Homo sapiens: one gene and its partner. The protein of the gene in region 2 binds, or shares a complex with, the protein of the main gene of each other region. Each region holds a gene or a part of one and is shown on either strand. Other genes may lie near its edges. The genes, in order: MTOR and RHEB.

The links.
Region 1: the proteins of RHEB (region 2) and MTOR are in contact, whole or in part, in a cryo-EM structure (PDB 6BCU), measured with the Homo sapiens proteins. Residues at the interface, in NP_005605.1 of Homo sapiens: Lys5, Ser6, Arg7, Lys8, Arg15, Pro37, Ile39, Glu40, Thr42, Gln57, Ala62, Asp65, Tyr67, Ile69, Gln72, Thr73, Ser75, Ile76, Asp77, Asn79, Asp105, Met106, Val107, Gly108, Lys109, Val110, Ile112; in NP_001373429.1 of Homo sapiens: Arg62, His69, Glu73, Ala101, Thr102, Ile104, Gly105, Arg106, Asn109, Tyr110, Arg112, Asn113, Phe140, Glu143, Tyr144, Phe147, Glu154, Arg160, Thr969, Gln973, Phe977, Lys980, Glu1010, Phe1011, Gln1014, Met1018, Ser1050, Thr1051, Asn1264, Lys1293.

The regions. Positions count from the first base shown.
Region 1 is NC_000001.11:11,097,316-11,112,589, forward strand, and holds the end of MTOR (serine/threonine-protein kinase mTOR), read right to left. Parts: intron 12,415-15,274; coding exon 12,334-12,414; intron 12,056-12,333; coding exon 11,975-12,055; intron 10,972-11,974; coding exon 10,866-10,971; intron 10,186-10,865; coding exon 10,170-10,185; 3' UTR 9,220-10,169; downstream 1-9,219. Other genes in the region: EXOSC10 (exosome complex component 10), read right to left, coding at 705-841, 2,406-2,516. UniProt on the Homo sapiens protein: Serine/threonine protein kinase which is a central regulator of cellular metabolism, growth and survival in response to hormones, growth factors, nutrients, energy and stress signals.
Region 2 is NC_000007.14:151,506,220-151,521,976, forward strand, and holds the start of RHEB (GTP-binding protein Rheb), read right to left. Parts: upstream 13,677-15,757; 5' UTR 13,293-13,676; coding exon 13,241-13,292; intron 12,759-13,240; exon of another isoform or gene 12,541-12,758; intron 1-12,540. UniProt on the Homo sapiens protein: Small GTPase that acts as an allosteric activator of the canonical mTORC1 complex, an evolutionarily conserved central nutrient sensor that stimulates anabolic reactions and macromolecule biosynthesis to promote cellular biomass generation and growth.

The DNA of each region.
Region 1 (15,274 bases), on a different chromosome or scaffold from region 2:
TGCAGTGAGCCGAGATTGAGCCAATGCACTCCAGCCTGGGTGATGGAGCGAGACTCCATCTCAAAAAAAATAAAAATAAAAATAAAAATACCTGCTACTCTACAAGTTGTGGGAAAGAATCTTGGATCTGGCAAGGCGCGGTGGCTCACGCCTGTAATCCCAGCACTTTGGGAGGCCGAGGCAGGTGGATCACGAGGTCAGGAGATCGAGACCATCCTGGCTAACATGTTGAAACCCTGTCTCTACTAAAAATACAAAAAATTAGCTGGGCGTGTTGACGGGCACCTGTAGTCCCAGCTACTCAGGAGGCTGAGGCAGGAGAATAGCGTGAACCTGGGAGGCGGAGCTTGCAGTGAGCCGAGATCATGCCACCGCACTCCAGCCTGGGCAATAGAGCGAGACTCCGTCTCAAAAAAAAAAAAGAATCTTGGCTCTAAGTGTTCACGTCCCATTTAATTAAAAAAGATTTGTACAAAAGTCAATATATTTTTTCAGTACAAAAGTCAATACATTTTTTAAAGGCTAAACTAAAAATATACCAAGTAATATTTCCCTAATCAAAATCCATTGCTTCAATTTTCACATTTTATAGCTCTTCATACCACAGAAAATGTTTAAGGAAAAATAAATTTCAGGAAAAATTTATCTACTTCTTTGTTTTCATTTCTTTTCACTAACACAAGAAAACAAAGTACAGTACTTACCACTGAAGCAACCTGTCTCCCTGTGTTTCGCAAAATGCTTGGAAGCCAGGAAAACTTCGGTAAAAATCATACTCATCGCCAAACTGTGGTAGGCCCCCAGATGCCTTGGTGACTGCCACCACGGACCCAAGAGCAAACTGTCAAAAACAAGAAAAGATGGCATGTTTACACAGGGATCCCCATTCATTTGGTATGTCATTTTTTTGATCTATCGTATACAAGGTATCTACTCTTCATCCATCAAAAAAAGCACTCATTTAGTGCCAAACCCCAATCTAATCTAGGCCCTGAGAATACAATACTGAACAGGAAACCAAGTTTGGAGCTTATATTCTTGGGAGAGTTGAGAGACAGAATACATACGTATATAATCTGATTAATATTCACAAATACCTGGGGTTGAATCTTGACTCTGCTACGTATTAACTGAGATCTTGGACAAGTGATTGCTTTATTTGGACTTTAGTGTTCTCCTCTGAGAAACAGGAAAAATAAAAAGGGCCTGCACCACAGAGTTTTTGTGAGGACAGAATGAATAAGCTAATAAAAGCACTTAGGACAGTTCTTGGCACATAAGCGTTATTATTACGACTCAAGTTCAGATCCAAGAGCTTTCTACAGGAATTTGTTTTTGTGTTTTCATCTGGATGAGCATCTAAAAACAATACAAGCTTATCCTAGATCCTTGGACGACAAATTTATAACAGCTACTATCTAAAACTGGATTTGTGTTTATTGTTCAGTTAGTGTCAAGTGGTTCTCTATTTTAACTGTTGTGAGGTAACGAAAAAAAGCCGTGAAGTGACATAAATGATGGCTGATCATGTGAAGGCCTAAAACGTCATTGTGAGTTTTGTGAATAAACATTTCCCAAGAAAAAAGCAGAGAAAGGAGGTGGGAAATTAAGTCACGGAGGGGAACATGGTAGCTTATGAGCATGACCGCCACACAACCAGGACCACAGTTAGTGGTCCAGGAACTATTGAGAGCCATGTTAATGAATCAATAGCATTAGCTAACAGCAAATTAGATAAGATACAACGTTAGTGGAATTTCTGTAAATTTATAGGGTTAATTTACAAATTATTTTAGTTTCATTGCTTTGTAAGAGCTATGCACACCTTAAGCCTAGTTGTACGTTTGCTCATATTTAAGCTAAGTTATACAAAGATCTTAAGTGAACGCCCTGTATACCTTCCAGGAGTTACTAATAAACGTGCAATGGGGCTTTAACAGGTGACATTTAACTCAGGGTTAAAAATTATGTAGGACTGGACTTCAGAAACAGAGGAAGAGAAGGGCCATACTGGCCGCGGGAGGAGACAACTCCAGGCAAGTGTGGGGAGCGCGAAGAAGCCGAGCCCCTGCGGAGAGCTGGTCGGGTGGCTAGGGCGTGGCGAGCGCGACGTCGCAAGGGCTAGGGACGTCTGGGTGGCAAGGAAGCCTTTCCCAGGATGCGAGACGGCTTTCCACATTTGGGCCTCCATGGACTTAGGCTCGCAAGCGGGACGCCCCTCAGTGTCCGTTTCCGAGGCCCCATCCCCGGAGGGTGCAGGAGAGTCTGCGCCCAGCGCGGACAGGGGCCCCGCGACCCTCGCTCGGGCTCCACTACGGCGGGCGGGCATTGGCTGCCCAGAGGGCCCAGTCGGCTTCCGGCGGCCGCGGGCGACTCCTGGTACCCCCGAGGCCCCGCGAACTCACCTTCACAAAGCTGTCGGCGTCCGGGAAGCCTGGCAGCACCATCTCTCCGTCGGATTTGGTTGCGCTGGTCGCCGACAGGACCCTGGGCTCCCGGGTACTGGGTGGCGCCATTTTTTCAGCCTGCACGGCTCGTCTCGCGAGAGCTTGTCGGCCGAGGAGACGGGACGCGTGCGCACCACGCATGCGCCAGGTCGAAGCGGCGGGCGGGGCGTCTGATTATAGTGTGGGGAGCCTGCGATTGGGGTGGGGCGCCTGCGATTAGGTTGGGAAGCCTGCGTTTAGGGTGGGGCACCTGCGATTAGGTTGGGAAGCCTGCGATTAGGTTGGGAAGCCTGCGATTAGGGTGGCACTTTCGAGCGCTCTGGTGTGAATTTCACGTTCTTTTACCTCATATTGTATCATCCCAACAACCCTGTGATCTAGGGTGCGGCCTGGAGGACCTGACTATCACATATATTTTTGACACGAGGTTTGCCCAATCTGGTTTCGAACTCTTGGGCTCAAGAGATCCTCCCACCTTAGCCTGCGAAGTAGCAGGGACCCCAGGCGAGGGCCACGATCCCCGCTTATCCTCGTGTTTATTTAAAAATTTAAAAAACAAACAAACCGGGATTACCGGGAGTGGTGGTGCGCATCTGTAGTCCCAGCTGCTCGGGAGGCTGAGGTGGGATGGTTGCTTGAGCCGAGGAGGTGGAGGCTCCACTGCACTCCAGCCGGGGTGACAGGATGAAACCCTGTCTCAAAAATTTCTTTTTAAGGTTATGTTTTTGAGGCTGGGCGCCGTGACTCACACCTGTAATCCCAGCACTTTAGGAGGCCGAGGCGGGTGGATCACCTGAGGTCGGGAGTTGGAGACCAGCCTGGCCAACATGGTGAAACTCTGTCTATACTAAAAACACAAAAATTAGTCGGGCGTGGTGGCACATGCCTGTAATCCCAGCTACTCGGGAGGCTGAGGCTTGAGCCCGGGAGGTGGAGGTTACAGTGAGCCGAGATCGAACCACTGCATTCCAGCCTGGGCAACAGAGTGAGACCTTGTCACAAACAAACAAAAAAAACCATGTTTTTGGGACAAAGTTTCACTCTTGCTCTCCCAAAGTGCTGGGATTACAGATACGAGTCATCAGCGTGCAGCCTATTTTTATTTTTATTTTTTTTGAGATGGAGTCTCACTCTGTTGCCCAGGCTGGAGTGCAGTGACGCAATCTTGGCTCACTGCAACCTCCCGCCTCCCGGGTTCAACGAATTCTCTTGCCTCAGCCTCCCGAGTAGCTGGGATTACAGGCGTGCACCACCACGCTCGGCTAATTTTTTTCGTATTTTTAGTAGAAACGGGGTTTCACCATATTGGCCAGGCTGGTCTCGAACTCCTCACCTTGTGATCCTCCCGCCTCGACCTCCCAGAGTGCTGGGATTACAGGCGGAGCCACCGTGCCTGCCCTGTTTATTTTTTTTTTTTGAGACAGAGTCTCACTCTGCTGCCCAGGCTGGAGTGCAGTGGTGCAATCTCAGCTCACTGCAACCTCCGCTTCCTAGGTTCAAGTAGCTGGGATTACAGGCGTGTGCCACAATGCCCGGCTAATTTTTTTTTTTTTTTTGTATTTTTAGTAGAGATGGGGTTTCACCATGTTGGCCAGGCTGGTCTTGAACTCCTGACCTCAAGTGATCCACCTGCTTTGGCCTCCCGAAGTGCTGGGATTACAGGTGTGCGCCACCAGCGCCTGGCTTATTTTTTTTAGACTGCATCTTACCAACCTGGTCTCGAACTCCTGGGCTGAAGCCGTCCTCCCACCTCACTGGGATTACAGGCAGGAACCACTGTGCCCGGCCCAGCCTCATATTTAAAGTCACCTCCTCCCAAGCTCTGGCTGGTTCTGTGTTCCCCTCACCCATTTGGTCTTGACTCCTGTAATTAATTACACCTCCCCTGCCCCCTGGATCTATCTTTTCCCTCTCTATTGGTTCATTCCTAACAGCCTACAAGTACACTGACATCTTTCCCAACTAAAAGAGAAAAGGAAAAAACACTGGCTCCCACATCTCCTTCCAACTGCCATCATCTCTCTCTTGCCCTTTACAGGTAAGCTCCTGAAGAAAGCGTCTAGCTCCAACTGTGCTTCCTCCCTCCAGTACCCTCTGAACTCCTCCAAGCAGACGTTGTTTCCTGCAGACATCGCTGGAACCATTCTGGTTAACACAGAGTGGGAACTCAGTACACATTTGTGAAGTGAACTCCTGGAAGAGCTCTTGTGAGGGAGGCACCGAATTATCAGGCAGCTCAAGAGATAGATTCACTCTCCTGAAATTAGAGATGGGATGCCCTTAATACAATTCATTCCACCCATTAAGTCTTCAATAAATGTTCAGCATATCCAGTTAAGAGAATACTTGCTTTTCACTTTTTCCGTGTGTGTGCTTCAGGTACACAGGTACTCTGGCAGGACAAACGCCTAGTTCATTTAGTATTTTTGAGGACCTATTTCACGTGGTTCAACCTAATACCACATGTCAGTCAGGCTGTGCTAAATGCTCCTCCATGGATTATCTTGTCTTTCAGACAGCCTCACAAGGTAGGGCTTACCCACACTTTCAGAGGAGACAAGCAGAGAGAATCTACGTAACTTATCCAAGGTCACAAAGGTACTATGAGATGCAGTTGATATTTGAAACTTAGTAAGTTGACACTACAGCCTTGATTCTTTTTTTTTTTTTTTTTTGAGATGAAGTCTCACTCTATTGCCCAGGCTGGAGTGCAATGGCATGATCTTGGCTCACTGCAACCTCTGCCTCCCGGGTTCAAGTGATTCTCCTGCCTCAGCCTCCTGAGTAGCTGGGATTACAGGCGTGCACCACCACGCCCAGCTAATTTTGCATTTTTAAGTAAGAGATGGGGTTTCACCATGTGGGCAAGGCTAGTCTCAAACTCCTGACCTCGTGATCCACCCGCCTCGGCCTCCCAAAGTGCTGGGATTATAGGCATAAGCCACCATGCCCGGCCTCAGCCTTGATTCTTAAAAAATACAACTGGCTGGGCGCAGTGGCTCACACATGTAATCTTAGCACTTTGGGAGGCTGAGGTGGGAGGATGGCCTGAGCTCACCAGTTTGAGATCAGCCTGGACAACATGGCAAGAATCAGTCTCTACAGAAAATACAAAAATTAGCCGAGTGTGATGGCATGCACCTGTAGTCCCAGCTACTCAGGAGGCTGAGGTGGGAGGATAACTCGTGCCCGGGAGGTGGAGGTTGCAGTAAGCTGAGATTGCACCACTGCCCCCCAGCCCGGGTGATAGTGCCAGACCTTGTCTCCAAAAAAAAAAAAAAAAAAAAAAAAAAAAGAAAAAAATAGTTAACCTGTTAACAACATCTGGTGATTAGGGGCTCCCATCCCTTTGAGCAGTCGAAAATCCACATATAGCTTTTAACTCCCCCAAAACTTAACTAATAGCCTCCTGTTGACCAAAGGCCTTACCGATAACAAACGGTCAACTGACACATATTGTGTGTATGTATTGTATTCTTACAATAAATTACGAAAATTTTAAGGAAAATATATTTACTATTCATTAAGTGGATCATCATAAAGATCTTCATCCTTGTTTATGTATTTATTTTTAGAGATAGGGTCTCTGTCATCCAGGCTGGAGTGCAGTGGCACAATCATAGCTTACTGTAAGCTTGAACTCCTGGGCTCAAACAATCCTCTGGCCTCAGCATCCAGGGTAGACTGGGCCCATGCCACCATGCCCAACGAATTTTTTTATTTTTTGTAGAGGCAGGGTCTCACTATGTTTCCCAGGCTGGTCTCAAACTCCTAGATTCAAGCAATCCTCTCACCTTAGCTTCTCAAAGTGTTGGGGTTACGGGCATGAGCTGCCGTGCCTGGCTGGACTAAACTGTATTTAAAGGCCTCCACTAGCTCCTCCTCTGCCTTTGATAATTTGTCTCAACACACCCAGAAGGCTTTGCTTAGATATAACTTAAAACCTATCGGATTCACCAAAGACCTTAATCCAGACTCTTATATCCTAAAGAATATATCTTTATCACTGATGGCCACCATTTTCCTGCCTTTATCATTCTCACACCTTTATCGTTCATGAATAGTAACATCACTGTAGTCACTGAGAGTTATTTCATCTGGAGCCAGGAAAGTTATGGTGACCATATTTTCTGGAGCAAATAGGTGATACATGGTTTAGGACTGTAACAGAAAATCCAAGTAGGTATGTGACTTTCTAGCTGTGAGTGTTAGAACTGTTATTAGTATCACCATTGAGATTTAAATTCACCTTTTTTTTTGGAAACAGTCTTGCTCTGTCACCCAGGCTGGAGTGCAGTGGTGCGATCTCGGCTCACTGCAACCTTTGCTGCCCGGTTCAAGTGATTCTCCTGCCTTAGCCTCCTGAGTAGCTGGGATTACAGGCGCCTGCCACCATGCCCGGCCTTTTTTTTTTTGAAACGGAGTCTTGCTGTTGCCCAGGCTGGAGCATAGTGGTGCAATCTTGTCTCACTGCAACCTCCGCCTCCCAGGTTCAGGCAATTCTCCTGCCTCAGCCTCCCCAGTAGCTGGGATTACAGGTGTATGCCACCACACCTGGCTAACTTTTGTATTTTTAGCAGAGACGGGGTTTGGCCACGTTGGCCAGGCTGCTCTCCAACTCCTGACCTCAGGTGATCCACCTGCCTCAGCCTCCCAAAGTGCTGGGATTACAGGTGTGAGCCACTGCACCTGGCCACCAGTTGCCTTTTAAAAACACCACTCAGGGCTGGGCACAGTGGCTTCTCTGGGAGGCTGAGGGGGGCAGATTGCTTGAGTCCAGGAGTTCAAGACCAGCCTGGGAAAGATGGCAAAACCCCATTGTCTACAAAAAATGTTGCGGGAAGTCAGGAACCCTGAATGGAGGGACTGGCTGAAGCCATGACAGAATAACATAAATTGTGAAGATTTCATGGACATTTATTAGTTCCCCAAATTAATACTTTTATAATTTCTTACGCCTGTCTTTACTGCAATCTCTGAACATAAATTATGAAGATTTCATGGACACTTGTCACTTCCCCAATCAATACCCTTGTGATTTCCTATGCCTGTCTTTACTTTAATCTCTTAATCCCGTCATCTTCATAAGCTGATGAGGATGTATGTTGCCTCAGGACCCTGTGATGATTGCATTAACTGCACAAATTGTTTGTAGAGCATGTGTGTTTGAACAATATGAAATCTGGGCACCTTGAAAAAAGAACAGAATAACAGCAATGTTCAGGGAACGAGAGAGATAACCTTAAACTCTGACCGCCGGTGAGCTGGGCACAACAGAGCCATATTTCTCTTCTTTCAAAAGCAAATGGGAGAAATATCGCTAAATTATTTTTCTCAGCAAGGAACATCCCTGAGAAAGAGAATGCATCCCTGAGGGTAGGCCTCTGAAATGGCTGCTTCGGGGGCGGCCGTCTTTTATGGTGAAAGCTGTAGGGATGAAATAAGCCCCAGTCTCCCATAGCACTCCCAGGCTTATTAGGACGAGGAAATTCCCGCCTAATAAATTTTGGTCAGACTGGTTGTCTGCTCTCAAACCCTGTCTCCTGATAAGATGTTATCAATGACAAAGCGTGCCCAAAACTTCGTTAGCAATATTAATTTTGCCCCGGTCCTGTGATCTTGCCCTGCCTCCACTGCCTTGTGATATTCTATTACCTTGTGAAGCACGTGATCTCTGTGACCCACACCCTATTCGTACACTCCCTCCCCTTTTGAAAATCACTAATAAAAACTTGCTGGTTTTATGGCTCAGGGGGGCATCATGGAACCTGCCAACATGTGATGTCTCCTCTGGACACCCAGCTTTAAAATTTCTCTTTTGTACTCTGTCCCTTTTCTCAGACCGGCTGACACTTAGGGAATATAGAAAAGAACCTATGTGAAATATCGGGGGTGAATTTCCCCCAATATACAAATATTAGTTGGCGGTGGGGGTGCTCATCTGCAGTCCCAGCTAATTGGGAGGCTGAGGCGGGAAGATCACCTGAGCCCAGGGGGCCGAGGCTGCAGTGAGCCATGACTGTGCCACTGCAGTTCAGCCTGGGTGACAGAGCGAGACCCAGTCTCCAACAAAAACAAAAACAAAAAACACCACTCAGATACTACTCCGTTTTAAAACTTCACAGCATCAGGTTCATACTCCTTGCTGCTGAACTGAGGGAGGCCCCGGTCTGGCCCCGGCCCCGTACTGCTTTCCTGCCTCCTTTAGTTCCTATTATTTTCCTGTTACTCCCTTTATTCCCCACTGACCACTGAGCCAGACATGCTGAACTATGAGGTGCAGCCATAAGAAAATGCCAGTTTTGTATATTAAAAATGGTCCACGTACCTGTGATTTCAAATGGTCCAACTGATACTTGCCACTGCTATGGATACCTTGCTTTTACAGCAGTGCCTCACACTTCCTTTTCTGCTGAGAATGCCCCCCCCTTGGTTCATCTGACAGACTCCCACCCCTCTTTAAGACCCATGCCAAATGTCCCCCTTTCTATGGGGCTTTCCAGGCTCACCCGGTGGAATACACGCTCCTACCTGTGGCCCATACATGCCTCTTCTCAGCACTTGGCCGGGGTAAGTTCTGTTCACTTCAGTGGCATGCTGTCTCCACCTGTCTGGCCTGGGAACAGTCTGAGGAAAGGGACCATGTCACGTACACCCTTACGTCCTCTGTCATCCCTACTACAGAGTGTTTACTGAAGGCTGAGTGCTGAAGAGAGTAAATGCTTCCTTTTTGAACTGATCAAAATTATGACTAAAACGCCACTCATATACATATGTTTAAAATTCTGATGTCATTTATTGGCACAAAAATTATTCTGATACAACATGGTGTCTAGACATGGCTACACTTTATACTTTGTGCATTTAGTTGAGTATTTGTTCTGCTCATAATTTCCAATATGTACCAGACCTTCCCTGTGTTCAGCACCTCCATGACAGTATTTCTGTTTTCTGAGCCCTTGCTCTAAACAGAGTATTTTGACCACTGAAAACATCCCAGAACCCTGCTGCAGAAGGCCAGTGAGGGTGGTCCCACTGCACAGTGATCCCCTCTGTGCATCTGCTCAGCCGAGGCTGCCAGCGATCTGAATAAACCTCCCTACTAGCGGTCAGGTCTTGAATTGAAGCGTGTGAGTCGCAGCATCACTGGGTCTGATGGAAGACAGACCTTTTGTACTCATTTTGGCCTATCTTGCAAACATTTCTGCTGCTGTCCACAGACCAGTGAGGTCTTGGGATAGGTGGCAGGGGTGAGGTCAGCATCTTCTGTGTCTTTACAGTCTAGGATCCTAATCCATGTTCTCCACGACCTGAGGCTTCTTGGCTGTGCTGAGTTTGCTGTACCCATGTTGAGAGGAGCAACTAGGTCATTCTTCCATCAGCAAGTACTTATGATGAGTTCTCTTGTGAGTTAAGTCAAAACCCGTATTTCTAAAGTTATGGATCTTCTGTTCCCCAAAATGAATGGCTTGATTTACGTGGTATTACTATGTTTCACTGTCCTGGGAACCAAATCAAGCCTTGTGTTTCTGACAATATATTCTTCAACAGCAGCTAGAAAGTTGGTTCAAACCAACTTTTAATATACAGTAGTTCTTTTCATTTACATTTCAAAATATTTAACAAAGTCAAACTTTCTCACCATGGTTTCAGTTTAGTGGAAGCATTTACTAAAGTACAAAAGCCTCAGAAAAAACGTGATGGGCACATCTGGGCCTCCAGTTACCAGAAAGGGCACCTAAGAAGGCAGAAAGAAAAGGAATATTTTAATAATTTGAGCTTCTTCAAAGGTTTACACAGATAACTTGAAAATGAAAAGGCCAAGGTCTGACAACCCTAGGGTATTCCCTGAGCTCTCCCACAGCTAATTGCATGGGACACACTCATCATTTCCAGTCAAGGCTAATGCCCACCGAGGTCCCGCAAGGACACTTCCCCAGCGCCCGCTCTCTCAAGTTTCTGCCTTCAAGCATGCCTTGGGCAATTAATCAAAGCACACCCCAGAGTGGCCCTTGAGGTTAGACTCCCAGATCATAAATCTGTCTTTTTATCTCCTTCTCTCTGTCACTGCTCTAGCTTTTTCTTTCCTTCGCCCTTCCTGTATCTCTGCACTGGACTGACAGCAAAACCCAAAAGGAACCCCTCACAAACAAACAAGCCTTGCCTATTCTCCTGAACCACTTATCTTAATGTAATTTTAATTTTAGTGTTTGCCTTCCAAGTATGCATCCATATTTCTCAGTTTCTTTTTTTATAACAATGGGCACATGCAGTAAATATGAATTTTTAAAGAGATCTGAGCTCTAACTGCCCTTTACAGATACCTCACCAAATCTCTTTTTGCTACTCTGGCTTTGGGGCCTAGGCTTGGGACCTGATTGCTTATTTTAACAAAGTCACTTTGAGAGCCCCACTCACCAGCCAATATAGCACTGGCAGAGGTTTTCATGGGATGTCGCTTGTTTGATGAGCAGCTCAACTTGCGTTGGAACATCCAAAGTGTCATCATGAGAGAAGTCCCGACCTAGCACAGGAGGAACAAAAACATTTCACTCTCTTCCTGGCAATCGATGCACTTCTTGTTCCCTGTGGGCTTAACTGTCTATGCCAACAGCTTATCGTCAGACATGAAGATGAAGGATACCATCATAGTTGGATTTGAAAAGTTTGGCCAGGTGCGGTGGCTCACGCCTGTAATCCCAGCACTTTAGGAGGCTGAGGCAGGCAGATCACCTGAGGTCAGGAGTTCAACACCAGCCTGGCCAACATGGTGAAACCCTGTCTTTACTAAAAATACAAAATTAGCCGAGTGTGGTGGCACATGCCTGTAGTCCCAGCTACTTGGGAGCCTGAGGCAGGAGAATCACTTGAACCTGGAAGGTGGAGGTTGCAGTGGGCCAAGATCGCACCACTGCACTCCAGCCTGGGTGACAGAGCAAGACCCTGTCTCAAAAAAAAAAAAAAAAAAGAAAAGAAAAAAAGAAAAATTCGGCCGGGTGCGGTGGGTGAATCACTTGAGGTCAGGAGTTTGAGACCAGCCTGCCCAACATGGTGAAACCCCATCTCTACTAAAAACACAAAAAATTAGCTGGGCGTGCACCTGTAATCCCAGCTACTCGGGAGGCTGAGGCAGGAGAATTGTTTGAACCTGGGAGGCAGAGGTTGCAGTGAGCCAAGATGGAGCCACTGAACTCCAGACTGGGCAATAAGAGCAAAACTGTCTCAAACAAACAAAAAAAAGACATGATTAAAAAACACTTCTCTGAATTTGGCTGATTTTGGACCCAAAAGAAATTTATTCACCTCCTGAGTTAAATGAGATTAAACTAACATTAAGTACTGTTATCAGTCATCAGAAAGAAGAATCAGAGACAATGTTTAACTGATGACCTCAAAGACACTCTTTGTCAGCTGCATGGTGCCAAAGCTCGTCACTAACACCACTGGACATGGGGCTGACCACCACTCAGAGAGGAAAGTGTGCTCAGATTTTATGTCCCTTTTAAGTAAACACATGACACACTCACCAGTGAGCTTATCTCGAACCCTGTTAATAATCTGGATAGCTTTCTTATTTAGGGCCTCTGGTTTCACCAAACCGTCTCCAACTGGAATACACAAAAGTAGAAATAACTGTAAGAATGGGAGCAATACAACAGGTTCAATGGGTGCCCTGTTTTTCTCAAATATTCACTTTTGTAAGTGTTAAGCAATCCTTCCTCTATGTCCGTCTTTGTCCTCAGAATATAATGAGAAATTCATGGAACCTTTTCTGCTCAAAGGCAGTTTTGTTGCTTCATCTTGTTGACCCCTCTCAGGGTATAACACAGCTGCTATTTTCTTAATGAGCTAGTCACTGGTGCGGTTCCTCAGAGGCTGAACTTACTGAAAGAATGAATAGATTCTGGCACTGTGGTCCCCGTTTTCTTATGGGCTGGCTCTCCAAGTTCCACACCGTCCAAAATTTCTATGGGAAAAGAAATCAATTAACAGAAAATTCAAACACCAAAAAGCCACTGTTGGTGTTAGCATCTAATTCTCTACGCACTCTATTCCTTTAACGCCTGCCCTACCTACCCTAAAGGGGAAAAGAGAAGGAAAGTTTTATGTTACTCTTTATGTATTTCAAAGTTTTAAGCTGGACATAGCTGTAATCTCAGCTACTCAAGAGGCTGAGGTGGAAGGATCACTTGAGTAGCTGAGTTCAAGACCAGCCTGAGACTCCATTTGCAAAAAAAAAAAAAAAAATTTTTAAATCTGTAAAGCCATTTTCAAATGTGAGTTAATAATTATTGAAAAAATTTGGTGCTTATCAGAATTGAAACATGGATTTTCAGGCAAATTGCATTAACAAAATAAACTCATAGGAATAAGAACAGGTCAAAAGCCTCGTGACAAAATGTGTTTGGACAAAAACTGATAAAGAAAATTAACTTCGGAATGTGTCACACACAAGGTTGAAATGTTATTCCTTGGAGGAATTTTCATATCAGCTCTGGGTAGAAAAAGTCCTCAGGTGTTAGGTTCACCCTCCACTGATTATGGCTTTTAGCAGAGAAGAGTCTGAAATCAGAATTATGAAGTTTTTTGAATGCTGTCCTTGTACATCACAGACCTTCTGAATGAAGGTAGTGATAATTATACTTCTTTTTTTTTTGAGACGGAGTTTCGCTCTTGTTGCCCAGGCTGGAGTGCAGTGGCATGATATCGGCTCACTGCAACCTCTGCCTCTCAGGTTCAAGAGATTCTCCTGCCTCCCGAGTAGCTGGGATTACAGGCATGCGCTACCATGCCTGGCTTATTTTGTATTTTTAGTACAGATGGGGTTTCTCCATGTCGGTCAAGCTGGTCTCAAACTCTTGACCTCAGGTGATCCGCCTGCCTGGGCCTCCCAAAGTACTGGGATTATAGGCATGAACCACCGCACCCGGGTGATAGTTATACTTCTATTAATGATCCATTGGAAGTTCTTTTTTTTGAGACAGGGTCTTGCTGTGTTGCCCAGGCTAGTCTCAAACTCCTGGGCTCAAGTGCTCCTCCTGGGCTTACAGGTGTGCACCACAACACCCAGCTGGAATTTAACTTTTAAGCTAAACAACCAAATCCACCACCATCTGGTGCCAGCAGAACTGGCTGTCCTAGTTCCCTTCTGTATGCTACAGACAGCATATAGTAGCCACTTGAGAATTGTTAGGGAGGTGGGCCCTGAGAATGAAGCCAGTAAGTCTCAGCACACTTCGTTTGAGACCAGCCACCAGTATAAGCTCCCCCAGAGACTGTGTGTCCTATGAGCCTGGTGATTCAGGCATTCACAAATCCTGTCACAGTGTCCATGTATGACATTATAAGCCAGTATCCCAATTTCTTGCCTGAAACACCCTTTTCCTTTCTACCCATCAGATTCCACCCATCCAATAAGGATAAATTACCCTTTGGCAAGGTGGGGTGGCTCATGCCTGTAATCCCAGCACTTTGGGAGGCCGAGGCGGGCAGATCACTTGAGGTCAGGAGTTCGAAACCAGCCTGGCCAACGTGGTGAAACCCTATCTCTACTAAAAATTCAAAAAAATTAGCTGAGCATGGTGGCATGCGTCTGTAATCCCAGCTACTTGGGAGACTGAGGCAGGAGAATTGCTTGAACTCGGGAGGCAGAGGTTGCAGCGAGCCGAGACTGCGCCACCATACTCCAGCCTGGGTGACAAAGCGAGACTCTGTCTCAAGAAAAAAAAAAAAAAAAGAAAGAAAAATTACCCTTTGTCAGGTGAAGTGATGGTTAGATGCCACCAACCCAAGTGCTCTCTTCGCAGCTACGGTTCACAGTGAAGTCCCCTTTTCTGAATCTCCACAGCCCTACTCCACACGAAAGCACCCGCAGGCTCCACGGCAGAGTCTCCTGCTCTCTGACTATTTCACGCAGGTTATGGTCAATTCTGTAATGCTTTCTGTGCTTCTTCAGGCGACCACTGTACCTCACATTTTCTTTTTGCACCCCTAGACATTATTTGGCTTAGTTTATTAACTAGTTGTAAGTGCTCTGTAAACATTTGTAGAAAAGATATACTTTTTTACACCCTAACAGTAATTCCCAAAGTATGAACTATGTAGGGTGTTGCTAAATGTCACGAAGGAAAAAAGGGGTGGGATGGGGAGTGCGGGGAAGAGGGGAGGGCTAAACAAAGTTAAACAATTTTACTCAAAAACAAACAAACAAACAAACAAAAAAACCCCCCAAAACCAGTAACTTCAATGCTGTGTGTGCTGGAAACTAATACAAATAAAATAAAAGTTAAACAGCTTGACTCAAACACTCCTGAGAGGTTTCCACACACAAAAAGGACTCTGGCTCTCAGAGGGACACAAGTCTTCTAGACCCCTGCTCTGTGAGTCGCGCTCCTAGAAACACTGTTCCATGTGGTTCCAGGGTTCCTCCCAGCAACGCAAATAAATTTCTGCTGCTTCCATCTTCCCATTTCTGAGCTATTATCAATGCTTGAGGACCAAGGTAATACTGTTAATAATTATTCCAACCCAGACACCATTAGTGAGCTGATATTCAGACATACTTTAAACTGTGTTTTTACAGATAGATTAAAATCAGATAGTTTGATAAAAATCTCAGAGCTTCAGGTACCCACTCCATGTGTGAAACAGTAAATAAAAAACATATTAGCTGCTTGGTGCTCAGTAAATATTTCTAGACCAAGTATTTGAAGTTCAATTAAATGCTTATCAGGTGATAAGCTAGCAGTAATAGCACCTTTGCAAAACTATCACTGTCAAGAACCACGAGAAAACTAGATTTACTTCCTTCATGTTCAGTAGCCATT
Region 2 (15,757 bases):
TCTGTTGCCCAGGCTGGAGTACAATGGCAGGATCATAGCTCACTGTATTCAAACTGCTGGTCTCAAATGATCCTCTCACCTTGGTCTCTCAAAGCACTGGGATTACAGGTGTGTGTCACCATGCCCAGCCCATTTACTACTTTTTACTAAACAGTATGAGATGGTGGTTATTAGCTATGTGACTTTGGGCAGTTTTCCTGAGTCCTTTTCCTTATCTGTAAATGGACATCATAATGGTACCTATCCTATAACGTGCTTTGTGAGGATTAAATGAAAATGTATACCAAACATCTGGCATGTAGCAAGTGCTCAGCAAATCTCATTATTATTAATATTAGTAATACTATTAGTAACTGCTCTTAGGCAGAAATAATCCGCTTAGGATAAAAAAAGTATTTTCGGAATTATATCTAATAAATTAACCTGAAAGATGACATACAGTAACTATTTCAACTAAAGCCTCAAAATAACACAAGCAAAATAACAAACATACATATACCCCTAAAGCAGAAAATTACTGTTTCATTTACCCACAGCTGAGTGACTGACACCACCCATTTCATGTGCTCATGGTTCTACAGTCAACGCTGGGCTCACTTTTAGTTTACTCTTTGGGGGGCCTTTATCTGGTGGGCTGGTGGTGCTACACAGCTGGGAAGGCGGGGCATTCTCCCTTTCTCTGTGTCTCCTCCTAACATCTACTGCACATCACTTGAGGCTCCCAAGAACACAAAAGCAGAAGCTGCCAACTTCTTAGGGCTTAAAGCCTGGAACTGGCACATCACCATCTCTGCTGCATTCTGCAGGCTCAAGACAGTCACAGGGCAAGCACAGGAATACCAGGAGAGTGCCTCGTTGGGGACTAACAATAGAACAGACACCAGTAAAGCAGACTTGGTTTGTAAACGGCAGAAAAAAGACTGCAGACTCACCTGGCTTATAAATGGAATGAAACCTGAATCACCACTGTTAAAAGGCTGGAAAAACAATGAACCGCATAAAGGTTTCTATGTGTTCCTTACATGACACACAATGCCAATCATATGCTTAACAATCGTATGCACCCACTCTAGTAAGAAATGTGTAGCTCCCCCTATGGCAGGATTGGTGGTTGTTGCTTTTTCGAGAGGGAGGGGTGATATGTGTTGTATTGTGTGTGTCTATGTATATTACACACACACATATATATAGTGTCACTAAGGAAGTGTTTTGAAAAGATGTTTACGATTCTAATTGGAATACCAATCCCCACATGTCCGTCATATAGAGTCAGATGAGAGTGTGTGATGCAGAACATACACATCTTAATTATTGTACAGAACCTAAAAAGTGAGACACCGTTAGAGTTTACGGAACATTCTCACATGAATTATCTCGCTTGTTCCTGTGAGCTAAGCAGGGTTGACATCATGTTGTTCTTTCTCACACCCCTTCCCCAATTTTAAAAATAGATGCTGGGAGATTTTAAAAAAAAGAAAAAATTAAACTGCAATTATTATTATTATGACAAAGACAAGGCAGAAAAAGTAAAACTAGTTCATAAAAATACCCTTTCAAATACTTATAGGTAACCCTATTGCCAATTATTATGCTACCAGATATATACCACTGAGGAAAATAAGAAATACGTTTAATTATATAACATGAAGGACTCAGTTTCATAAATGAAGAATTTTATTAACAGGATTATTAAACTAAAGAAAAATAAAGTGCTACCCAGAAAGGCCATAAAACTGTTTCCCTGGAGATTTTCAAAACAGGATATTCATCTCTACAGGATGGTTTAAAGACAAAGCTGAGGTGGAAGGCAACAATAATAGCCCTGATAAACTGCAGGAAATTAAATGTTTAGCAACAATGAAGAATGAGTTTTCCTAGAACGGTGGCCAATCTGGAGAGAAGACCTGGGATACAGGTGAGGGTGGGAAAGAGCTAGAGAAAAGCAAAGACAAAAATTCTCTATTTCTTAACATATTAAAGAACATGAAATTTAAGAATGATCAAAACTAGTAATAACACAGTATGAGGAAAATGAGATATGAAATAGAGTATACTCATCCGTCAGCCTGAATGGTTAAAACCATTCATATTTTATAAAGATAATTTCTTCAAAAGTTCTTAAAATCTGCGCTGACCTCATTATCAACACCAATTCACTCCTCACAGTATCTGGGCTGTCTAATATGGCAGCCAGTAGCCATACATGGACAGTAAGTACCTGAAATGTGCTCAGTTCCGACTGAGATGTGTCACAGTGTAAGTATGACAAATGTACAAATATCAACAATATCCATCACATGTTGAAATAACATTTTGGACATACTGAGCTAAATTAAGTATATTAATTTCACTTATTTCTTTTTACTTAATATGCCTACTGGAAAAATCTAAAATTACATTAGGTTATATTTTTAGTTTTTTTTTTTTTTTGAGACCTCAGCCTCCCACTTTTGTAGAGACAGGGTTTCGCTGTGTTGCCCAGGTTGTTCTGGAGCTCCTGAGCTCAAGTGGTCCTCTCACCTTGGGTCCCAAAGTGCTGGGATTCTAGGCGTGAGCCACTGCACCAGGCCAGATTGTTTCCATTGGGCAAGGCTGCTCTGTACCCTTGTTTAAGGGAATAGGATCATATTATTTGTATAAATTTAGCTCCCTAAATTTGTGCTCCAGAAATACTTCCATAGAAGTCTAAAAAAATTGGAAGGTAGGCTCATTTTGTGTACAGCTCAATTTTTTAGGACACTGCTCATACAGAAACATGGTTAGATTAAGAAAGCAATTTATTATTATAAAACATATTCACACATTTTTGTAGCACTCTTATGCAGAATGAAAAGATCTAGAGAAAGAGTCCAACTCCCCCTCCCAGCAAGCAGGAATGACAAACATCCTTGTAGTAAGACACTGCCTGCCTGAGTGGGCAACGTGAGCGTGTGGGGCCACCCGGGCCCAGCAACCTCATTTGTCTCTGGGGCAACAATCCTGCGGTGTGAGGGTATGCTTGGTCAAATCCTTGGGTGACACAAGGACCCAGGGCCAGCAAACCCTCAGAACCCTACTTGTAGGCACAGCCACCTGTCTTCGGGACCATGGGAACTGTGCCCTGTGTGGGTGGTCGCTAGGGCCTCTGTGGCCAGAAAGCAAGGAAAGTGTGTGGATCTGGCAGGTGCATAAATAAATCTGGTCCACCCCTTAAACTTGCTCCTGTTCCATCATTTCTGATTTTAGCCAATGGCAACATGACCTACTCAGGCACTCACATGAGAAATCTGAAGGCTACTTCACAGCTTCCACATTGGTCTTGCCCATTCTCCCTCTAAGGAAATCTCCCATGTGCGTCCTCTTCATCTCATCTACTCTGCGCCTTGGCTGGTCTTCCCATTTCTACTCCCTTACCACCCCTCCCACTTCACAGAACAGCAGGAGGATGGAAGCCAGGATCAGCACACTACAGACCAGGGGCCAAATTTGGCCTACAGCCTGTTTTGGTTTTGTACAGTCTATGAGCTAAAAATGTTTTTTTCATCTTTAAGTGGTTGGAAAAAGAAACAGTATTTCATGATACTGAAAATCAGATGAAGTTCAAGTGTTATATCCATAAATAAAGTTTTACTAGCACACAGCCACACCCACTCGTTGATGTATTGTCTGTGGCTGCTTCCGTCCTACAAAGGCAAAGTAGAATAGCTGCAAGAGAGGCTACATGGCCTGCCCTGCAAAGCTTGAGATATTTACTATCTGGCCTTTTACAGAACAAGTCTGCCAGTCCCTGGTATAGATCATCGTCTTATTTGTTGCTTAAAACCCTTCAGTCACTTCCCACAGTTTCTAGGAAAAAGTCTAAAACTTTTCACAGAGCAGACAAAACTGTTCTTGAAGGACAGTTGGCAAACACATGAGTCCCGACCTCTCTCATTACTCACACCTCACCCTTCTCATTCACTCAGTGAGCCACACTGCCTTTCCTTTAAAGACAATTCTCCCACCACCCCCATCCCCACTTGATGATCAAGTTAGCCCTGCCTTTGATTATTTCTCTCAAACACCTATCCCAACTGTATTTAAGTAACAATCGTGTAGTAGCTGATTAAAGACTGCCTGCTCTGGAGCCACTGCCTGAGTTCAAAATCCTGGCTTTGTCACTTAACAACAGTTTGACATTGGGCAAGTCACATAAACTTTTTGTACTTCAGTTTCCTTATCTGCAAAATAGGTGTAACAACTGCACCTACCCGAGTTTAAAGGCTATTAATACATGTGCATTAAGATTGTACCCCATAACAGTAAATGCTTCAAAAGCACCAACAATTATTATTCTCAGTAGCAGGAACAAGTTCCTGTGGCTCTCAACTAGACTGAAGCTCCTTGAGGGCAAGGATTATAACTGTCCTAGCTTTTGTGACTGGTACAAAGTAGAGCATTTATTCAAATGCTTAATGAACACCTAATTTGAATAACACATAACACTCACAAACTGTCCTCTTCAACCAACAGTTGCAGTGATTCAATCTTTGGGGGCCTGGCCCAAATGTTCTCTTTCAAACAAATGCCAAATGTGATTGAGATTTTAAAGCCAGCAAAATACAGGTGCAGTGGCTCAGCCTGTGATCCCAGAACTCTGGGAGGCTGAGGTGGCTGGATCGCTTGAGTCCAGGACTTCGAGACCAGTCGAGGCAACAAGTAAGACCTCATGTCTACAAAAAAATAAAAAAATAGCCAGGGCATGGTGGCACACACCCATAGTCCCAGCTGCTCGGGAGGCTGAGGCGGGAGGATCCTTGAGGCTGGAAGGTTGAAGCTGCAGTGTGCCGAGATCGCGACATTGCACTGCAGCCTGGATGACACAGTGAGACTCCGTCTCAAAAAATAAAAAATAAAAAAAAAAATAAAGCTAGCAAAATAGGCAGACACATTTATATCTAAGACACAGAAGTCTTAGAAAAGCATTTCATCTCATAAAACTGTATTAACTGTAAAAGCCCATATTTGCATCCCCATTCACAAATTATGTACTATGCCATCAGGTAGTTATTAACATTCAACTCTCAATCCTGCAAAAGGTGGGATGGTGTATCTTGCTAAAACACCAACTTCTCTTTCAAATGTCCATGAGGAGTCCTTCTGCAAACATGTAAGCACAACAAAAAGAGAAATGCGGGAGAGAAAGACTCAATTCTACTACAGATAAGACGCAAACCAAGCAAGCATGACACTTCGGAGTGAATTCTATCACTATCTTTAAACTGCCCTGCTTTCTTAACTTGCCCATAAGAGCACAACGTAAAGGCTTTTCTAGCACTTCCTGTTCTAAACTAATACCAGTTTAGATTTAAAGCTCCAATCCTACAGGAACTCCTTTTTTTTTTTTAATAACCAGAAGCCCAACATATATTGAAGAAAATTAAAATACTAAAATAGTATTCCAGAACCTTTAAAATGTTAGATTTCTTTTTTTTTTTTTGAGATGGAGTCTTGCTCTGTCGCCCAGTGGCGCGATCTCGACTCACTGCAACCTCCCCCTTCGGGTTCAAGTGATTCTCCTGCAGGCCTCAGCCTCCCTAGTAGCTGGGATTACAGGCGCCCACCACCACGCCCAGCTAATTTTTGTATTTTTAGTAGAGACAGGGTTTCGCCAGGTTGGCCAGGCTGGTCTCGAACTCCTGACCTCAGGTGATCCACTCGCCTTGGCCTCCCAAAGTGCTGGAATTATAGGCGAGAGCCACTGCGCACAGCTGATTATATTTAAAAATCAATCCAGCAATTCATGTTAAAAGGACTCAGCAGTTTGCATTCTCACAGTTAGCAAGAATGACGTGACGAAGATAGACCGTGAGTACTGTATCAATGTTAAGATTTCATTTGGTACTTCAGAATAAATTAGAACTAAGAATGAAGGTTCCTTCAAGTATGATCCCTAAAGATTTCATAATACTCTCACTTGCACAATCATGTGCAAGTTCAGTTCTGATTTATTCAAGTAACTAAGAACAATCCAGCCATGGACACTATTACAGTTGTTTGCGAACTTGTTATTCTGAATCTTCACCCAAGAAAAGCATTGTGCATCTCTGACCTTCCACAATCACAGGTAGAGGTGGCAGTGTCTCATTCTGTGATAAAGTTGCTATTTTTACTTGTGTACTCCTCCCCACCTTCATCCTGATACTCGTATTTAAAAACTATATTATTAGTATATGGGTCTCTGGTATCCTGCTACTCTTTGCAATTTTCACTACTCTCTGGGAGCCTCGCCATCACCAGGTCCAAACACAACTCATCCAAAAATGCAACACAATCAGAGGCCAAACCAATAGGCACACAGATATCATAACTCTCCTGATGTTCTCTGGCCTCCCTCGTGCTTCCTTCCATTCTAACCACGCCAAGTTCTTTCCTGCCTTGCCATCTTTGTCTCTCACAACGCTACAGGGCCTCTCCTAGGAGGCTCTTCTAACACTGTGGGAACCATATCGCTGTGAACAGCATTTAGGATGCAGTCACTGTCAATTCGATTTTGCACAGCAGTGAACAAGATCCTAGCTTACAACAGTTTAATGGTTCTCAAAGGGTGGTCTGTGGACCTCTAAGGGGTTTACCAAAATCTTTTCAGGGGTCTCATGAGGTCAAAACGATATTCATAGCAATATTAAGTTATCATTTGCCTTTTCCACAAAGTTCCCATTTGTACTAAGGGTGCAAAAGCAATGGTAGGGAAAACTGCTAGCTCGGCACCCCTTGGCATGAATCAAAAACAGTAGTTACAAACTGAGTGGTAAGTCACTGTATTCTTTACTACCATGCATTCACAGTGGGAAAAGAGCTGTTTCTACTTAACAGTGTCCTTGAAAAAGCAGTAAAATTATATTAAATCTTGACCCTTTGGTACCTGTCTTTTTAATATTCTGCACGACAAAATGAGATGTACACATAAAGCACCTCTGTTACATACTGAAGTATGATGGTTGTTTCCAAAAAAAGCACTTGTGCAGTCATTTGAGAAGTGATCTGAACTGGCCACTTTTATCATGGAATGCCTTTTTTACTTGCAAGAATGATGACAAACTATCATTATTGCAAATGTGAATAGCTGGCAGACATTTTCTTGGAAATTAAAGAAACAAAACAGTCAATTCAAGTAAAAACTGGTAGCATGTTGCCAAGGAAATTATTTGAACTCAAGGAGGAAATTAGAATTTTGGAAAACTTGCACCACTCATAGCGAACAGTGTTCTAAAACTTAAGACTTTGCAGAGATTGGTGGTGATATTAACAAATGTGATTTTTAAAAATGCTTGTATAATAAAATGTGTCAACATGTGGAAGATCTGCGTAACGATGAACAAATATTTTCCAAATGACCAGTAACGCTACAAAACCAGGCATGGTAGAAGATCCATTCCAAGTATAAAGCAGACCTGCGGAGTTGGGCAAATTCATCAATATGATTTCAGATTGCATAGTGTAACTATTCTTTGCAAACTATCACTTATGAAGTTTCGGTATCAAAGAATATTCAACTACCTGAAAAACTATTCAAGTACTCCTTACTTCATTAAAATAACGTTAAGGGAATGAATTCAGGAGCAGAGATGAGAATCCAGCTGTTAAGACATTAAAAGATACCTGCAAAACCGTGAAACACCTTATCAAAATTGCAGTTGCTTTTTTGGCAGAAACTGGCAATCTAGTCCTAAAATTCAATATGGAAATGCAAGGGACTGAGAATACCCAAAAACATCTTCAGAAATAATAAAGTTAGAGGACTCATATGCCCCTATTTAAAAACCAGCTACAAAACTACAGTAATCAAGATCGTATGGTACTGGCAGGACAGACATACAGATCAATGGAATGAGTGAGTTCTTCTATTGACGGTCACTTCATCTCGGACAAGGGAATTCAATGAAGAAAGAACATTATTTTAACAAAAGAAGCTAGGGCAACTTGATATCCACATGCAAAAGTATAAAGTTCTATCCCTCCCTCACATCATATACAAATATTAACCACAAATAGATCACAGATCTAATGTAAGAGTTAACAGGATAAAATATCTAGAAGAAAATATAGTAGTAAATCTATATGACCTTGGATTAGGCAATGGCTTCTAAGATGTGACACCAAAAGCATAAGTGGCAGGAGAAAAATAGATATATCGGCCTTCAAATTAAAAACTTTCTGCTTTGAAGGACACCATCGAGAAGGTAAAAGGACAACCCACAGACAGGAGAAATTATTTGCAAATCCTATGATACCACTTCACACCCAATAGGATGGCTAAAATGAAAAAGGCAGTGTAACAATTGTTGACGAGAATGTGGAGAAAATTAAACCCTCATACATTGCTGATGGGAATATAAAATTGTGCAGCTGTTCTGGAAAAAATCTGACAGTTCTTCAAAATATTAAGCACAGAGTTAACCATAATGACCCAGCAATTCCACTCCTAGGAATGTACCCAAGAGAAATGAAAACATGTCTACATAAAAGCTTGTACAGGAATGTTCAAAACATTATTATTCATAGTAGCCAGAAAGTAGAGCTCCAAGTGGTGTCTCACACCTGTAATCCCAACACTGGGAGACTGAGACCAGAGGATTGCTTGAGGTCAAGAGTTCAAGACCAGCTTGGGCAACAAAGCAAGGTTCCCACCTCTACAAAAAAATAAAAAAACTAGCTGGGTGTGATGGCGCACACCTGCAGTCCTAGCTACTCGGGAAGCTGAGGCAGGAGGATCACTTGAGTCCAGGAGGTTGACACTGCAGTGAGCCATGATAGCTCCACTGCACTCCAGCCTGGGCAACAGAGCAAGACCCTGCCTCAGAAAAGTAAATAAATAAAAAATAATAGCCAAAAAAAAAAAGAAAGAAAAGAAACCACCCACATATCCAATTGACAAATGCATAGAAAAAATGTGGTATACTCACATGACAGAATATTAGTCAGCACTAAACAGGAAGAAGCGACATATGCTACAACATGAACGAACCTTGAAAACATTATACTAAGTAAAAGACGCCAGCCCCAGAAGACCACATATGTATGTTCTTATTTATATGAAATGTCCAGAGTAAGTAAATTCATAGAAACAGAAAGATTAGTGGTTGCCAGGGGCTGACAGGGAAGCAGGATGGAGAGTGACTGCTAATGAGTACAGAGTTTCTTTTTGGGGTGATGAAGTACAGAGAGATATAACCCATATGGACAGCAAAATAACATTTGGCACTGGAAAGCCATAATCAGAAATCTGAATTCTGATTATGCTCTTGTGCAGAACAATGAATGAGACTGAAAAACAGTAATTTCAAGTTTCAATACAAAGTGGGCACTTCAGGACTACCCCCACCCACAAGTATACAACATCAGAATATTAAGCACCTGAATATACAATTTCACATACTGGTAGATGTCATACATAGCAAATATTGTTTTGCCTTTCAATTTTTCAATAAAAAGTGTCAACAAATGATAGGTTAACTTAAAAAATAAACAGTAAGTCAGAATCTGCTGGGAACAACCAAATATTTAATGACATCTTTCCTCATGAAGACTCTAAATACTACCTAAACATTTTGACAAAGTAATAATTTGAGTACTTTTGCTGAATTGCCTTCTTCCAAACCACAAAGCTGTTTCATTTTCCCCCTATGATCTTTCACATGCCTGTGATCCCATCCCTCTTATTAACTGTATGTAAGAGGCTTATATATGACAACCAGCTTTTAATTATGGTCTAATGGTAAACTAGGTTACCAAAGCTCTCTGTACAGGTAAAATCCCAGTGAAAGATGTACCAGGCTGAAGACAGTTTACGTAACACTACCATTTTAAGTTGAGTTACTTCCTATCGCGGGACTACTCCGTTGTGGTAGAAATAACGGAATGTCAGGGAGCTGGTACTTTTGGCCATCACGGCAACAGTTAATACAAAGCACTCCCTGAAAGCCAGACTCCCAGAGTTATAGGTGACGTGTCCTTAAAAGCTTTAACATTGTAAATACCAGGAAAAGTACAGGGGACTGGCAGGGAGAATTGTATAGACTACCTGAGAATTATATTTTACCTATTGGTAGTTCTGACAACACTCAAAAAAAAAGAAAAAAAGAAAACGGAAAGCCAAGTAGTGGGCTGGGTGCAGTGACTCATGCCTGTAATCCCAGCACTTAGGGAGGCCGAGGCAGGTGGATCACGAGGTCAGGAGTTCAAGACCATCCTGGCCAAGATGGTGAAACCCAGTCTCTACTAAAAATACAAAAATTAGCTGGGCGGGGTGGCAGGCGCCTGTTATCCCAGCTACTTGGGAGGCTGAGGCAGGAGAATCGGTTGAACCTGGGCAGCAGAGGTTGCAGTGAGCCCAGATCCCGCCACTGCACTCCAGCCTGGGTGATAGAGTGAGACTCTGTCACAAAAAAAAAAAAAAAAAAAAAAGAAAGCCAACTAGTTAAACAAACATAGCACTTTTTTGTTTTATCTGAAGACAACTTTAAAAATAAAGTTTGTGGCATGACAAATCACAATGACAAGTATCCTACTAGTCAAACTGGCTTAATGTATTTAATCAAGAGAACATTCTAAGAAAGGTGTGGAGGCTTTTTATGTGGCTCTACCCCCAGAATATAGGACAAACAGCTCAGCATCACAAAATACCACAATCTAGAAACACAGGTACTCAAATTTCTCTGGTACAGCACCACCATTTGCAAGCAAACATGCCAGTAAGCTCCCAGAAGTGAGCATGCTGAGTAATTCTCAAAAGGGTGGCTTACTAGAAGAAACCTGCTGGCAAAACCTAATCTCCTTCCCCTAAAAAAGACCCCACATACTACAAAATATCCTGGCTCATAATACACTTTAAAATCAAATGCGGCTGGGCATGGTGGCTCACGCCTATAATCCCAGCACTTTGGGAGGCCAAGGTGGGAGGACCACCTGAGGTCAGGCGTTTGAGACAAGCCTGACGTTTGGCCAAGTGGTGAAACCCGTCTCTACTAAAAATACAAAATTAGCCGGGCATAGTGGTGCACGCCTGTAGTGCCAGCTACTCTGGAGGCTGAGGCAGGAGAATCGCTTGAGTCCGGGGCGTGGAGGATGCAGTGAGCCGAGATCGCGCCATTGCACTCCAGCCTGGGTCACAAGAGCGAAACTCCGTCTCGGAAAAAAAAAAAAAAAAAAATCAAATACAAGATTGGGAGCAACTTAACCTCTCCAAAATCGTTTAATATGACTACGCTTGAAAATAAATATGGAGAAGTGGGGTAGGTTGCAGAAATATGAAATACTGAAGACAGAAAATAGGGACTAAAAGTGACCCTGTATCCCACCGGAGACTAAGTTAGCACAGTATTTAACAAGCAACAGTTTGTGAGGACAAGGCTAAGGGGTGGCCTGTCACATCTCCGTCCTCAGGAGGACGCTGAATAGAGGGAAGATAAAACAGAATGGATTTCAACTGGACATAAGGAACTTCTGTAGCCAAAAAAAAAAAAAAAAAAGTGATAAAACTAGCCCTGCTCACCAAAGACTAGAGCTACCATTTCGACATTTGAAAAGGGTAAATCAGTCAAGATCTTTAGGTCATTCTCTTGGGTTGAAATCAGGTAGCCGAGGTACTTGTTGCCTATAACGTGATTATTCAGGGACTACTATTTCCAAATAGTTGCCAATAAGTACTTACTTGACTGACTAGGGAAGGCTCACCCAAGAGCCAGAACACCTCGCGGTCCCAACTCCTCAAAATGCAGAGGAGGAAATCAAGAGAACAGAGACAAGAGCATGGATTCAGGCTGCCAATAAAGGCTGGATCCCAGGTTCCATGTTGATATTTGAACAATTAGTGACTTTGAACCCCTCCATTTGATTCATGGTTACTTCCTGGCTGCAGCTGTTAAAGCTGCCACCTATGCATCCCCTCGGATTCAGCACCGCATCGCACAAGAGTTCCCCTACGACTCTAGGCACCCCGCATCTCTAGCCAAGCTTCTTTCAGCCCTTAATTTCCCCCCGGCTCTCGACGGAGAGGTGGTAAAAGGATGAGTAAGCATGCAGTGGCTGATCTTGGTCAAAGAGCACAGACCCTGGCACAGGCGGTGGAAAGCGCAGTTGGGGAGTGCATCCAGTGAGCGGCAGGCAGGTACAAGCTTCCCATGACAGATAGTCACCCCGTTCCGCAATCACGGGAGCCTCGGAACCCTCGCTTTCACCTCCCCATCCCCTCAACTGTGGCCCGGTGCACGCCTTCTATAGACAGTTACTTCAAAACAGCCCGAAAAGATGAACTAATTTCTCCAGGCTTCCGGATGTCGGGAGACAATACAGCCTCACCCTGAAGCGTGTCTAAGTTCAATCGCTCTGGTTTCACACAGGCCAGAAAACCGCTCGTTCTGTAACACCCCGTCCGCCCCCCAACCCGACCCTAAGCCACCTTATTCAGCAATAAGGCGACTGCTAGGAACTGTTTCAAATGTATGTCAACCTTTTGGGGGAAGAAAAAGAAAACAAAAAGACTTTGGAATTACTTCAACAGCCTGGTTGCAAGTACCTGACCTTATTCCTTCCCGAACAAAAATAGGGCACCGAGAGATCAGACATTCCTTTTTCTCTGTCTTCCTACCCAGGCCGCCAGCAGCATCTCGAGGGCCTCCAGAGGGACCTCTTTTGGGGGATCGCCTAGGTTTCCTATGCAGAAAACTTGCGTTCAGTGCCCAAACGTCCTCTAAATCCCTAGTTTTCTTTACAAGGGTAAACTTCACCACAGATGGAATGAAGCCGAGGCGCTGCTTCCTTTGTTAAAATCCCACGGACTTTCTTTTCCTTACATCGGGGGCGGGGTGGGGGAGACCGCCAGCCCCGGTCACGCGCGCCCGCGGCGAAGGCGGGGAGGCAGGTGTGACTCCCTCGCGGCAGCCTCTAGCGCGGCTCCCCGGCGCCGCCTCACTTCCCCAGACGAGACCCGGACTCCTCGGCGGCCGACGGCCCCCGCCCCGCGCCTCCCACGCCCTCCGCCCGGCCGCCACCTGCCCGCCCGGCCCGCGGAGGGCGCCCAGCTACCGCGGCTCCTCCACCGGCGCGGACGCCGCCCCGACCGCCACCACCTCCGCTCAGAATGGTGGTTACGAAACGCGCGGCCCCCGCCCGCCCCGCCACATGGCCGCGCCGGCTCCAAACTTCGCAGGCCCGGCCGCGACCCGGCTCCCAGGCGAGGCCCCGGCGGCGCGAGGAGGCCGCGCGGCCACCGGCCACTCACCCACAGACCGGTAGCCCAGGATCGCGATCTTCCGGGACTTGGACTGCGGCATCTTGGCGGCCTCCTCAGCCCCGGCCCAACCACATCAACCGCGGCGGCGGTGGCTCCTGCTGCTGTGATCGGCGGCGGCCGCGCCGGGAGAGAGCGGCATACAGAGCAGGGGCGGCGGCGGGCGCGGCTGCCTCTCGCTCGCTAGCTCGCGCGCTCCCAACCGCCCGGAACCGACCGCGCGGCGGCGCCCCTCCCCCCCACAACACGCCCACGTGACCGGCCGGCGTCAGCACCGCCCCTCTTCGCGCCGTGGCCCGCCGCCTCCGCCCCCCGAAATACGCGGGGGGTGCGTCGGGGCGACGTTTTACTTTAAAGGCAAAAAAAGGGGACGCCGCGATGCCCCCAGAAAAGTCACGACTGAAACTCGCTGCGTCATGACCCTCCCACCTTCTTCCGCCGCTTTTTAATTACGCCATTCTCCCCGAGCGCCGATTGGACAGCTCCTGCACAGCCGCGCGATGACGTGTCGGAAACTCCATCTCCCATTGGGGGAAACAAGGAGGCGGGGAGGGGGGGGCGGGGCTGCCCGCCCGGGAGCTAAAAATACACCTCGCTGCTACCGCGCTGTTGGGCGCCGGCTAGGTTTGAAGGCTTCAAACTTCCAACCGGTTAGGGGCGGGCGGGAGAGGCGGAGAGACAAACGGTGGCTCCCTGGTGATTGGCCAGAACGGAGCGCAGGGCGGGGCAATAGGTGGGAGGTGCGGTGATTGGCGAAACGCTAAGCGGTTGGCGGGTTCGCGCCCGCTGAGCCCGTGAAGGGCGCGAGGCGCGTGGCCTGGGCGGGTGGGCTGGCTCCTCCCTCGGGGTTTTTTGAAAATTCTCCTTGAGCTGCGTTAGCGTTCGTGTCTGGGTTTGAGGATGTAGTGGTGACTAAGCGTCACCGACGGCCGAAGGACTGTGGGAAGCATGGAGTCTGCGTTAATTCAAAGTGTTAGGAATTTCATTAAAAACAGGGCGAGCCTCGTCAGTTCTGGTGTCCGCTTCGCTTCGCGCGGAGCTCGGCGCACCTCCTGGAACAGCGCCGGGGCGGGAAGCCGGTTCTCCGCCAGCACCGGGGCGGCTGGTGCGGCGGGCAGGCCCGAGCCGGGTGCCAGGAACGCCTCGGGCCGCGGTGTGGACGGGCGGAGACCGTGGTGTGGGCACAGCCTTCCCAGGGGTGCAGTGCAGAGGGGCGCGGGAAGGGAAGCCCGGCCGGGAACGCAGGTGCCGTTGAGGGACCAGCCTGCAGGCAGGCCCGGCGTGGTGGCTGCTGGAGGGCTTGGCACTTGCCGAGTTAGCAGAGACTCCGCCGCGCCGGGGAACCCGCCCCTATTCTGCCCAGGCTGTTTGGCAGTGGGGACCTGCAGAGGCCGGGCATGGCCCTTCGCCCTTTGCCAGTGATCGGTGGGGAGGAATGAAGCCAGGGGAAGCTGAGTGGCAGGCCTTGTATTCCAGCGTAGGAAGGTTTAGAGGTGACTGGAGTCGACTTGGAACACCCAACCCAAGAGCGACTCCCTCCAGCTTTCCCACGGAAGCACTCCGATGAGGGGCTGGGGTGTGCATTCTTGTCCTCGGGGATCTACAGATGGAAGCCCCAGGCAGCCAGCCAGAAGTGATCAATGTCTGGAAGTTCTATGTTTCCATGAAATGTTGAGGTTTACGCTATAGTTATTTTAAGTATTTTAAAATAAAGGTCTTAAAATGCACTCTCCTGTAAAATGTGTCGTTTTTATCCTGTGGATTCGGATACCCTCACCACGGTGTTTTTGAACAGATGCTACTAAATTCCTTGCATTATAAAATCAGTTTAGTTTTACCTTTTTTTAAAAAAAATAGAACAGAATAGAAAACTGCGTTATGCATAGTAAGGGTAAGTATGTGTCCTCATTAGTACAGTGGTGAGTTAAAAAAATGAGTAAGGGTAAGTTTGTGTAAGTGCACGTGTAGATATATATGTTTATAGATATGCTATATATGTATTATTGCATGTTGGGATTTACTGTAGTTTCTTTCTTTTTTTTTTTTGAGACGGAGTCTCTCTCTGTCGCCCAGGCTGGAGTGCAGTGGCGCAATCTCGGCTCACTGCAAGCTCCGCCTTCCGGGTTCGCGCCATTCTCCTGCCTCAGCCTCCCGAGTAGCTGGGACCACAGGCGCCCGCCACGACGCCTGGCTAATTTTTGTATTTTTAGTAGAGATAGGGTTTCACCATACTGGCCAGGATGGTCTCGACCTCTCGACCTCATGACCCGCCCGCCTCGGCCTCCCAAAGTGCTGGGATTACAGGCGTGAGCCACCGTGCCCGGCCTCATTGTAAAGTTTCTTACAGTGGGTTGCTTCAAAAAGTTTGAAAGCACTGCCCTAGCCTGAGAATATTGGTAATCCAGATGTGAAGCACAGTTGTAAAGGACAAATTCATTCAAAAAGTTTTCCAGGCTGGGCGCGGTGGTTCACACCTGTAATCCCAGCACTTTGGGAGGTCGAGGCAGG